2 separate regions of the Homo sapiens genome follow, and region 1 is linked to region 2. The links come from fine-mapping of genetic effects on gene expression. A gene starts in region 2. The other region holds a variant in brackets. All regions are shown on one strand. Distances are between the middles of the regions.

Region 1 (4,491 bases), 72 kb before region 2:
CCACCTGACCTGTACCAGCCTCTGGGGTGGGCTCCGTGGAGGGGCTCCCGGAGCCCGGGCAGGTGGCGTGGCACTCCCGGAGCGTGCCATGACAGCGGCACAGTGACAGCAAGTGGCAGGCGTCCGGCCGGGGTGGCCTGAACTCTCTGGCCGACCCAGGCTGCCACCCCACTTATCTACCTCCCTCTGCGGCCCTGGCTCCCCGGGGATGGGTGGGGACGTGGGGGCTGAGTCACTCTGGGGAGCAGGGTGATGACTGAGCCCGCTCCCCTGCGAAGGCTCCAGCCTGGCGCCCCCCACCCAGCTAGGCTTCCGTCCCAAGAAAGGAAGGAAGGAAGCTGCTGGAAGGCCCTGCCCTGCCCCAGGACCCAGGGCTGAGGGGACAGGGAGGAGTCCCGGCCCCAGAACACAGGACGGTCCTGTTGAGGCTCCAGAGGAGCAAGAGCCAGGGAAGCCCGGAAGCCCCCGCAGGCACCGCGCCCCAACCACACAGCCGCCTCCCGCAGAACTGTCACCCCTCACACCTGCTCTTAGCCCCCAAGGCCCTCCAGATGGGGGTGGAGACATGGGCTAGGGGCAGGGGGCAGAGGGCTCAGGGTCTGCCACCACCTCCAGGGCCTGGCACCGCTGGCCACCCCGTCTCTGTTTGGGGGCTGTCCCCTGTCGTCACTACTAGGATCAGCTGCACTGCAGCTGCGGCCACCCCCAGCCTGGTGTGGCCCAGGGCTGAGTCATCACTAACTAGGCCTTCACGGCCCCCAAAAGGAGGGGCCAACCACATCAGTGTCCTCCCCTGCCCACCTCCCCTATCCCCAGCCAGGACAGAGGACACTGAGAGCCACCCTTAGCTCCCAGGGGGCACCCAAAGTTGGGCCCTCTCCATCCTTCACCAAAGACAAACTACACACATCCCTTCCAGAGCTCTGCCTCTCTGCCACCAGTGCCCCCACTGGAGCCATCCCCGCAAGGTAAGCTTTGCCCTCCTGGGCTCCCTGACCATCTGAGGCATGCCCTGAACCCAGGCTGAGAAGGGCAGGATCTGAGCCTGCTCTGTGGAGGTCAGGTGAGGCCCACCTCTTCCTGCCCATGCTGGGAGCTCAGGTGAAGAAACCTCAGGTCCTGAGCCAGGCGCAGGGGCTCACACCTGTAATCCCAGCACTTTGGGAGGCTGAGGCAGGCGGATCACTTGAGCCCAAGAGTTTGAGACCAGCCTGGCCAACACGGTGAAACCCTGTCTCTACCAAAAACACAAAAATTAGCCAGGTGTGGTGGTACACGCCTGTAATCCCAGCTACTCAGCAGGCTGAGACATAAGAATTGCTTGAACCCAGGAGGCGGAGCTTGCAGTGAGCCGAGATCGCACCACAGCACTCCAGCCTGGGCGACAGAGTGAAACTCCGTCTCAAAAAAAAAAAAAAAGAAAGAAAGAAATGAAACCTCAGACCTCAGGGGCCGGGTACAGTGGCTCACACCTGTAATCCCAGAACTTTGGGAGGTCGAGGAGGGCAGATCACCTGAGATCAGGAGTTCGAGACCAGCTTGAGCAACATGGTGAAACCCCGTCTCTACTAAAAACACAAAAATTAGTCAGGTGTGGTGGTGCGCGCCTGTAATCCCAGCTACTGGGGAGGGTGAGGCAAGAGAATCGCTTGAACCCAGACAGCGGAGGTTGTAGTGAGCCAAGAAAGAAAAAGAAAAAGAAACCTCAGGTCTTGATGCCAGAAGAGAGAAGGGGAGACCCTGTTCCTTGGGTGCCCCCTGACCTCCTGGAGCCCCTGTCCCCAGCCAGACTCATGCACAAAGGGACCTGCCACTCAGGCCACCCTTTGTTCCTCTAAAAATACACCCAGAGGAAGCCCCTCCTAGGGCTTCCTGCAGCCCCCAGAGCCTGAAATAGCAGAGGGGGAAGGTCCCACCCAAGGCAAGGTGCCTGGGCCACTGCACCCTCCAGATAAAGTCCGAGGGCCGGATTTTTCCACAGGAAGGTGAACCATG[C/G]GTTTGTGTCCAAATCAATGGACAAACGCCTGAGGCAGAGGGGGAGCTTCCTCCTGGGGGAGGGAAGGTGGCTGGGAAAGAGGGAGGCCCCAACCCTCAGCCTGGAGACAGGGGCTTAGGACCAGCCAGCCCCCCTGCAAGGCCAGCCCCCCCACCAGCCCTGGGCTGGGCACCTTGGCCCTGAGCACCACTGTGGCCCGCCCTCAAGCCCCAGGAACAAAACGGGTCCCACAGGTCCCACGGGCAGGCCTGCGCCCAGGCTGGGCTCCCCACAGGGAATGCTGTCTCCCTGCCAAGCCGCTCCCCCCGGGCTCAGCTCCTAGGGGCAGCCAGCTTCAGCAGTGACGTCTGGGAAAGGGAGAAAGTGAATGTGTATATCCCCTGCACCCTCAGAACTCCAGATCCCACACCCCTGCCCCAAGCGCGGTTCTCACAGTGGGGTCTGGCCAACCCCTGGACTCATATCCCCTGAAGGGATTTCTTTCTTTTCCTTTTTTTGTTTTTTTTTGAGACAGTCTCACTCTGTCGCCTAGGCTGGAGTGCTATGGCGGGATCTCGGCTCACTGAAACCTCCGCCTGCCGGGTTCAAGCGACTCTCCTGCCTCAGCCTCCCAAGTAGCTGGGACTATAGGCGTGCCCCACCATGCCCAACTGATTTTTGTATTTTTAGTAGAGACGGGGGTTTCACCACATTAGTCAAGCTGGTCTCAAAATTCCTGACCTCAGGTGATCCACCCATCTCAGCCTCCCGAAGTGTTGGGATTACAGGCGTGAGCCACCGCACCCGGCCAGGGTTCTCTTTGAAAATGAAAAAAAAAAAAAAAAAAAGGTAGGAGAGAACATGGAGATAATGCCATCAGGGCCTCCAGGAAGATAAGACAGACAGCTTCAGGCTGTTCCTCCTGGTCCCCAAGGCCTGCCAGGCCGCCCCTCCCAGTCGGCCACCTAGCAGGAGGTGGAGCAGGCCGCCCCTGTACTTTTCTGGGTCTCCTGGCTGGGAGCAAGGGCAGGGGAAGGAGGAAGTACTACCCAGCAGGAGTCCAGGAGGAACAGCAGACAGGGTCCCAGGGCCCTCCCTTGTATCTAGGGGGAGGAGTGGGCTCACCCTGGAGCCTCCTGGACCCCCAACTCCACTCCCATGCTCCCAGCCCCACCTACGCCAGGCCTGGCAGAGTGGCCTCCTAGGCTTCCCCAACCACGGCGCTGCCTGTGGAGAAGGCCGGCCCTCTCCCAGGCCTTCCCAGCATGCAGGCGCCTTCAACAGAGACAAAGACAGAGCCACGGATGACACCCAGCACAGGCACAGAGCTGCGCACACGCAGACCTGGAATGCCTCTTCCCAGGGTTCCTCAGCCACGAGGCTGGGGGCTGGGGAGGCGGCAGCTTGTCAGAGTGACCCCTCGATAGGGCAAGTGGCTCTGGAGCATCCTGGAGAAGAGGAACAGGCCAGGCTGCCCTGACCCTACCCAGTTTAAAACACAGGCTGAGGGTAGAAACAGTGGCCCCCAGTGGCCAACAAGATGGTCCCTGGGGCAGAAAAGGAGCCCCAAAAGGCAGAAGAGACCAAGACTTCTGGAGGTGACCAAAGGCAAAGATCGTCGTCAAAAGCTGAGAGAGCCTCTGGGAGAGGCTAGGGTGGTCCCTGTGGGCCAAGCCCGCCATACCTTCTTGCCAGCTTCGGAGCTGTGGCTGCCGGTGTGTGCCCAGTCTGGCTTCGGCTCCCAGGGGTCGTGGGCGGGTGGGAGCCCTCGCTGGGCCATCTCCTCGGTACAGGTCAGCTGCCGCCGGCGGAGCTCCTCATCTGTCTCCTGGTCCACCACCAGCAGCCGAGTCTGCCCCTCCACAGCCTTGATCCTTTGCACCACCTGGGGCGAATGGGCGATAGGAGCGGGTCAGTGGCCCACATTCCGGGCAGCACATGGGCAGTGGCACCACTCTGGGCTGGCCCAGGCGTGCGGACAGGCGGCTGGTCTGCATGGGCGGGTGGCTGCACCAAGAGGCCTGCCGGCCCCGCCCCCCACCCCCGGACTCCAGCGGCTCCCTCCCTCTGCACTCAGGCTCCGGACACTGAGGCCCAGGCTGTGAGGGCTTCAGGGTGCTCCCAGAGCCTTGCCCTTAGCCCAGGGTCTTCTCCAGGCGGGGCTGGGAAGGGGCTGCAGGATAGGGCCGCTGGGTAAGTCCTGTCTGGAAGTGACAAAAATGGTGCACAGTGGACCTTCAGGTTTTCAGTCTGCCTGTCCCTGTGCGCGCATGCATCCATCTGTTTCAAAGTCTGTGTCTCCGTCCAGGTTTGAAGGAGAGGTGTGTCTCCCTGGGCCCCAGTTTGAGTGTGTCTGTGCCCATTCCCGTCATTCTCTGCCGTGCAGTGTGGGAGTCTAAACTCCTGACCCTAGGCCTTATATCTACCTCCAGGCCATGGCCATGGGCCCATTCCCTCTGGATCTGCAGAGAGGGGAAGGGCTGGGCTCCTGGCTCGGGCACCCACACACAGCCAGG
Region 2 (4,221 bases):
ACAAAGCCACAGACTCAAATGCCTCATCGGTTTGGACAGGCTTTTAGCTTTCTTATTTCTCATAAGCCCTTTGGAGGGGAGAGAGGAGAACTTCCTGAGTGTTCCAGCGTTTAGAAAACAGCAATTCGTCTCTCTAAGGGATGTGGCCAGCCAGGCAGGCCTGTGAAGGCCTAGGCTACAGCTGATGGAGAGCTCCCGAGTACCAGGCATCATCCTCAGAGTTCCACATGCATTACCTTACTCTGTCCCCCACACAAGCCTACAGGCAGCTGCTTCTCACAGATGGCAAGGACTGGGACGCAGCTCTGCCAGTGCACCTCCCCCAGCTGCACAGGGACCCTGCTGGGTGCGCAAAGAGGCTCCAACAGGGAGCCTCCAGCAAGCAGAACTTACCACCTTACGGCCTCAGCTTCCTCACTGGGAAATGAACGAGCTAAAAGGAGAGCTCGAACATCCAGACACATAGGACAGACATGCTCTACAACTGCTACAAAAGAGAGGGAGCTGGGTCCGCTGTTGCACGGTTTCCAGATCTTTGGGGGTTTGATTTGGAGACTTCACCCTCTTACGGAAGAACCACCAGAGCATGCTATGCACCCCAAGTGTTCAAAAAGAACTGAACCAGGCTGGACACGGTGGCTCAGGCCTGTAATCCCAGCACCTGGGGGCCAAGGTGGGAGGATCACCTGAGGTCAGGAGTTCGAGACCAGCCTGGCCAACATGGTGAAACCCCGTGTCTACTAAAAATATAAAAATTAGCTGGGCGTGGTGGTGGTGCGCCTGTAATCCTAGTACTGGGGAGGCTGAGGCAGGAGAATCGCTTGAACCCGGGGTGGGGCAGAGGTTGCAGTGAGCCGAGATCGCGCCACTGCACTCCAGCCTGGGCAACAGAGTGAGACTGTCTCAGGAAAAAAAAAAACAACAAAAACTGAACTGGGCATTTTCCCGGTTCGTTCCAGAGATGCTGAATTTGGGCATCTCGGCCATCACCCCGACACTTGGTCATCCGGCAGAGAGACATTTGAGAGAGGCCTGAGGCCAGCGGTGCAGTGGAGGGGTGCCCGGGGCGGCGGGGGGCGGAGAGCAGTGCGGGGTCCTGGGGCAGTGGGCGCTGGGTGCGGCAGGGAGGGAAGAGTCCTGGGAAGAAGCGGGGCATCCCGGGGTGCAGGGGAGAGTAAGGGATCCTGGGAGGTGAGGTCCGGGGTGCAGTGGGAGGCCAAAGGAGGCGACGGAGCTCGGAGGTCTCCGGGGGTGGGGAGTTGTCCCCGGGGTGCAGCGGGGGGCGGTCTCAGGCAGACGGGACCCCGGAGGCATTGGAGGATCCAGGCAGGGTGTGGGATCCAGGGGTCCCCAGAGGCCGGCGAGGGAGCCCCGGGCTGGGGCTTCGTACCTCTCACGAGGGTCACGGGTCGGTCCACGATGAGGTCGAACGCTTTCATCATGTAGACGATGGGATTGGGCTGCACCGGCGTGCGGCGCGGGGGCTCAGGGTACACATCCTTGTCCCAGCTGTCCGGCATGGCGGCGGCGGGCGCGGACTCCGCTCCCGGACGCGCTGCCCTGGCCTCTACCTCCGTCCGGGTCCCGCGGCCTAGGTCGCCCGCTACAGAGGACGCCGAGGGCGGCTGCGTCTGCGCGCTGGCGCCGCGATGCACCATGGGACTTGTAGTTCCCCGGCTCCGCCGGGCGCGGCCGGGACCCGCCTCGCCGCAGGGCGCCCCCGCGTGGGGCCTCCGTTCTCGGTCTGTGCCGAGCGCCTACGCGGTGCTGGTCGCTGGTCTGGGCGCCTGGGAAGCAGCCGCGAACCGGACAGATTCCTGCTTACGATGAAAGAAACAGACAAAAGGCAACTGACATAAGGAATAGGAGGGGGTCATTCGGTTCCCACTGCGCGCCAGGCACTGTGCTGAGTGCAGCAGGGAATAAGATAAACTGTGATGGAGAACACAGGCCGTTAGAGCGCACACGACAAAGTGAACAAATAGCACGCGATTCCAAACACCCTACTCCTCCAGGAAGCTTTCCTGGATTGCCTAGTCCCTACAGACTTCTCTGGGCCCCGCTCTCTACAAGGGCCCCTCATGGACTGGCTGGTGCCAGTTAACTTGGGAGCCTGTCTGGGGGAGGGCAGGGAGCAGACCAGGAGGCAGGGCTTGCCCTTAGGCGGCTCATAGGGAGAAGGCACCTACCCTGGGCACAGGGCCCTCTGGCCGGCTTTGATGGTTCCATCCTGGCCCTGGGGCACTCTGGTGCTTCTAGGCAGCTCCACTGAGCAGGGTCCTGCTGGCCACATCTTCAGTCTCCACACCTGGCACGGCCCCTGGCTGCTATCCAGGGGGGACACTGGTCATGTCCTGTCCTGAGGTTGAGGCCAGCGACACAGAACCATCAACCCTACAGACAAACAGTGAGAGGTGACAGCGTGCTGGCAGTCCTCAGAGCCCTCGCTCGCTCTCGGCGCCTCCTCTGCCTGGGCTCCCACTTTGGCGGCACTTGAGGAGCCCCTTTCTGGGCTGGCCAAGGCCAGAGCGGGCTCCCTCAGCTTGCGGGGAGGTGTGGAGGGAGAGGCGCAGGCGGGAACCGGGGCTGCGCGCGGTGCTTTGCGGGCCAGCGCGAATTCCAGGTGGGTGTGGGCTCGGCGGGCCCCGCACTCGGAGAGCCTGGCCGGCCCTGCCGGCCCTGGGCAATGAGGGGCTTAGCACCCGGGCCAGCGGCTGCGGAGGGTGTGCTGGGTCCCCCAGCAGGCCGGCCCACCGGCGCTGCGCTCGATTTCTCTCGCCAGGCCTTAGCTGCCTCCCCGCGGGGCAGGGCTCGGGACCTACAGCCCGCCATGCCTGAGCCTCCCCCACTCCGTGGGCTCCTGTGCGGCCCGAACCTCCCCGACGAGCGCCGCCCCCTGCTCCAGGGCGCCCAATCCCATCAACCACCCAAGGGCTGAGGAGTGCGGGCGTACGGCGCGGGACTGGCAGGCAGCTCCACCTGCAGCCCCCGTGCGGGATCCACCGGGTGAAGCCAGCTGGGCTCCTGAGTCTGGTGGAGACGTGGAGAACCTTTATGTCTAGCTCAGGGATTGTAAATACACCAATCGGCACTCTGTATCTAGCACAAGGTTTGTAAACACACCAATCAGCACTCTGTGTCTAGCTCAGGGTTTGTGAATGCACCAATCGACACTTTGTATCTAGCTACTCTGGTGGGGACTTGGAGAACCTTTGTGTGGACACTCTGTATCTAGCTAATCTGGTGAGGATGTGGAGAAGCTTTGTGTCTAGCTCAGGGATTGTAAACGCACCAATCAGCGCCCTGTCAAAACAGACCACTGGACTCTACCAATCAGCAGGATGTGGGTGGGGCCAGATAAGAGAATAAAAGCAGGCTGCGGGAGCCAGCAGTGGTAACTCACTCAGGTCCCCTTCCACAGTGTGGAAGCTTTGTTCTTTCTCTCTTTCCAGTAAGTCTTGCTGCTGCTCACTCTTTGGGGTCACAGTGCCTTTATGAGCTGTAACACTCAACCGCGAAGATTTGCAGCTTCACTCCTGAAGCCAGTGAGATTACGAGCCCACTGGCAGGATGAACAACTCCAGACGCGCGGCGCCTTAAGAGCTGTAACACCGCGAAGGTCTGTAGCTTCATTCCTGAGCTAGCGAGAGCGCGAACCTACCAGAAGGAAGAAACTCCGAACACATCGGAACATCAGAACGAGCAAACTCCGGACACCCCGCCTTTAGGAACTGCAACACTCACCGCGAGGGTCCGTGGCTTCATTCTTGAAGTCAGTGAGACCAAGAACTCACCAATTCCGGACACAACAGGATCTACGGTCACAGAAACGTTCGGTCTTCACATTATGAACTTTTTTTTCTTTTTTTGTTTTTGTTTTTGTTTTTTTTTTTTTGAGACAGTTCTCTCGCTCTGTTGCCCAGGCTGGAGTGCAGCGCGTAATCTCGGCTCACTGCAACCTCCTCCTCCTCCCAGTTTCAAGTGATTCTCCTGTCTCAGCCTCCTGAGTAGCTGAGACTACAGGTGTCTGCCACTACGCCCGGCTAATTTTTTGTATTTTTAGTAGAGACAGGGTTTCACCATGTTTCTGGTCTCAAACTCCTGACCTTACGTGATCTGCCCACCTCGGCCTCCCAAAGTTCTGAGATTACAGACATGAGCCACTGTGCCTGGCCAAAGTCTTGGAAAGAAATATGAACCATGAGACCCAAACAATCTTGA

Evidence for each region. PIP is the estimated chance that this variant, and not a neighbour inherited with it, causes the effect.
Region 1: its variant is the best candidate, but not a certain one, in a credible set for the expression of NDUFB10 in whole blood (INTERVAL, PIP 0.72).

The regions. Positions count from the first base shown.
Region 1 is chr16:2,028,951-2,033,441 of GRCh38, reverse strand. NHERF2 (NHERF family PDZ scaffold protein 2) reads right to left here. Exons shown (of 7, transcript NM_001130012.3): 2 at 3,660-3,860. Among named protein-coding and RNA genes, the nearest start is that of NHERF2, 4.3 kb to the right of the region's middle. RefSeq lists an enhancer at 299-883. The variant C/G (reference allele first, on the strand shown) is at 1,996.
Region 2 is chr16:1,956,924-1,961,144 of GRCh38, reverse strand. NDUFB10 (NADH:ubiquinone oxidoreductase subunit B10) reads right to left here and starts at 1,607. Exons shown (of 4, transcript NM_004548.3): 1 at 1,391-1,607. The coding sequence starts at 1,520. RefSeq lists silencers at 978-1,087, 1,518-1,827 and an enhancer at 2,550-3,391.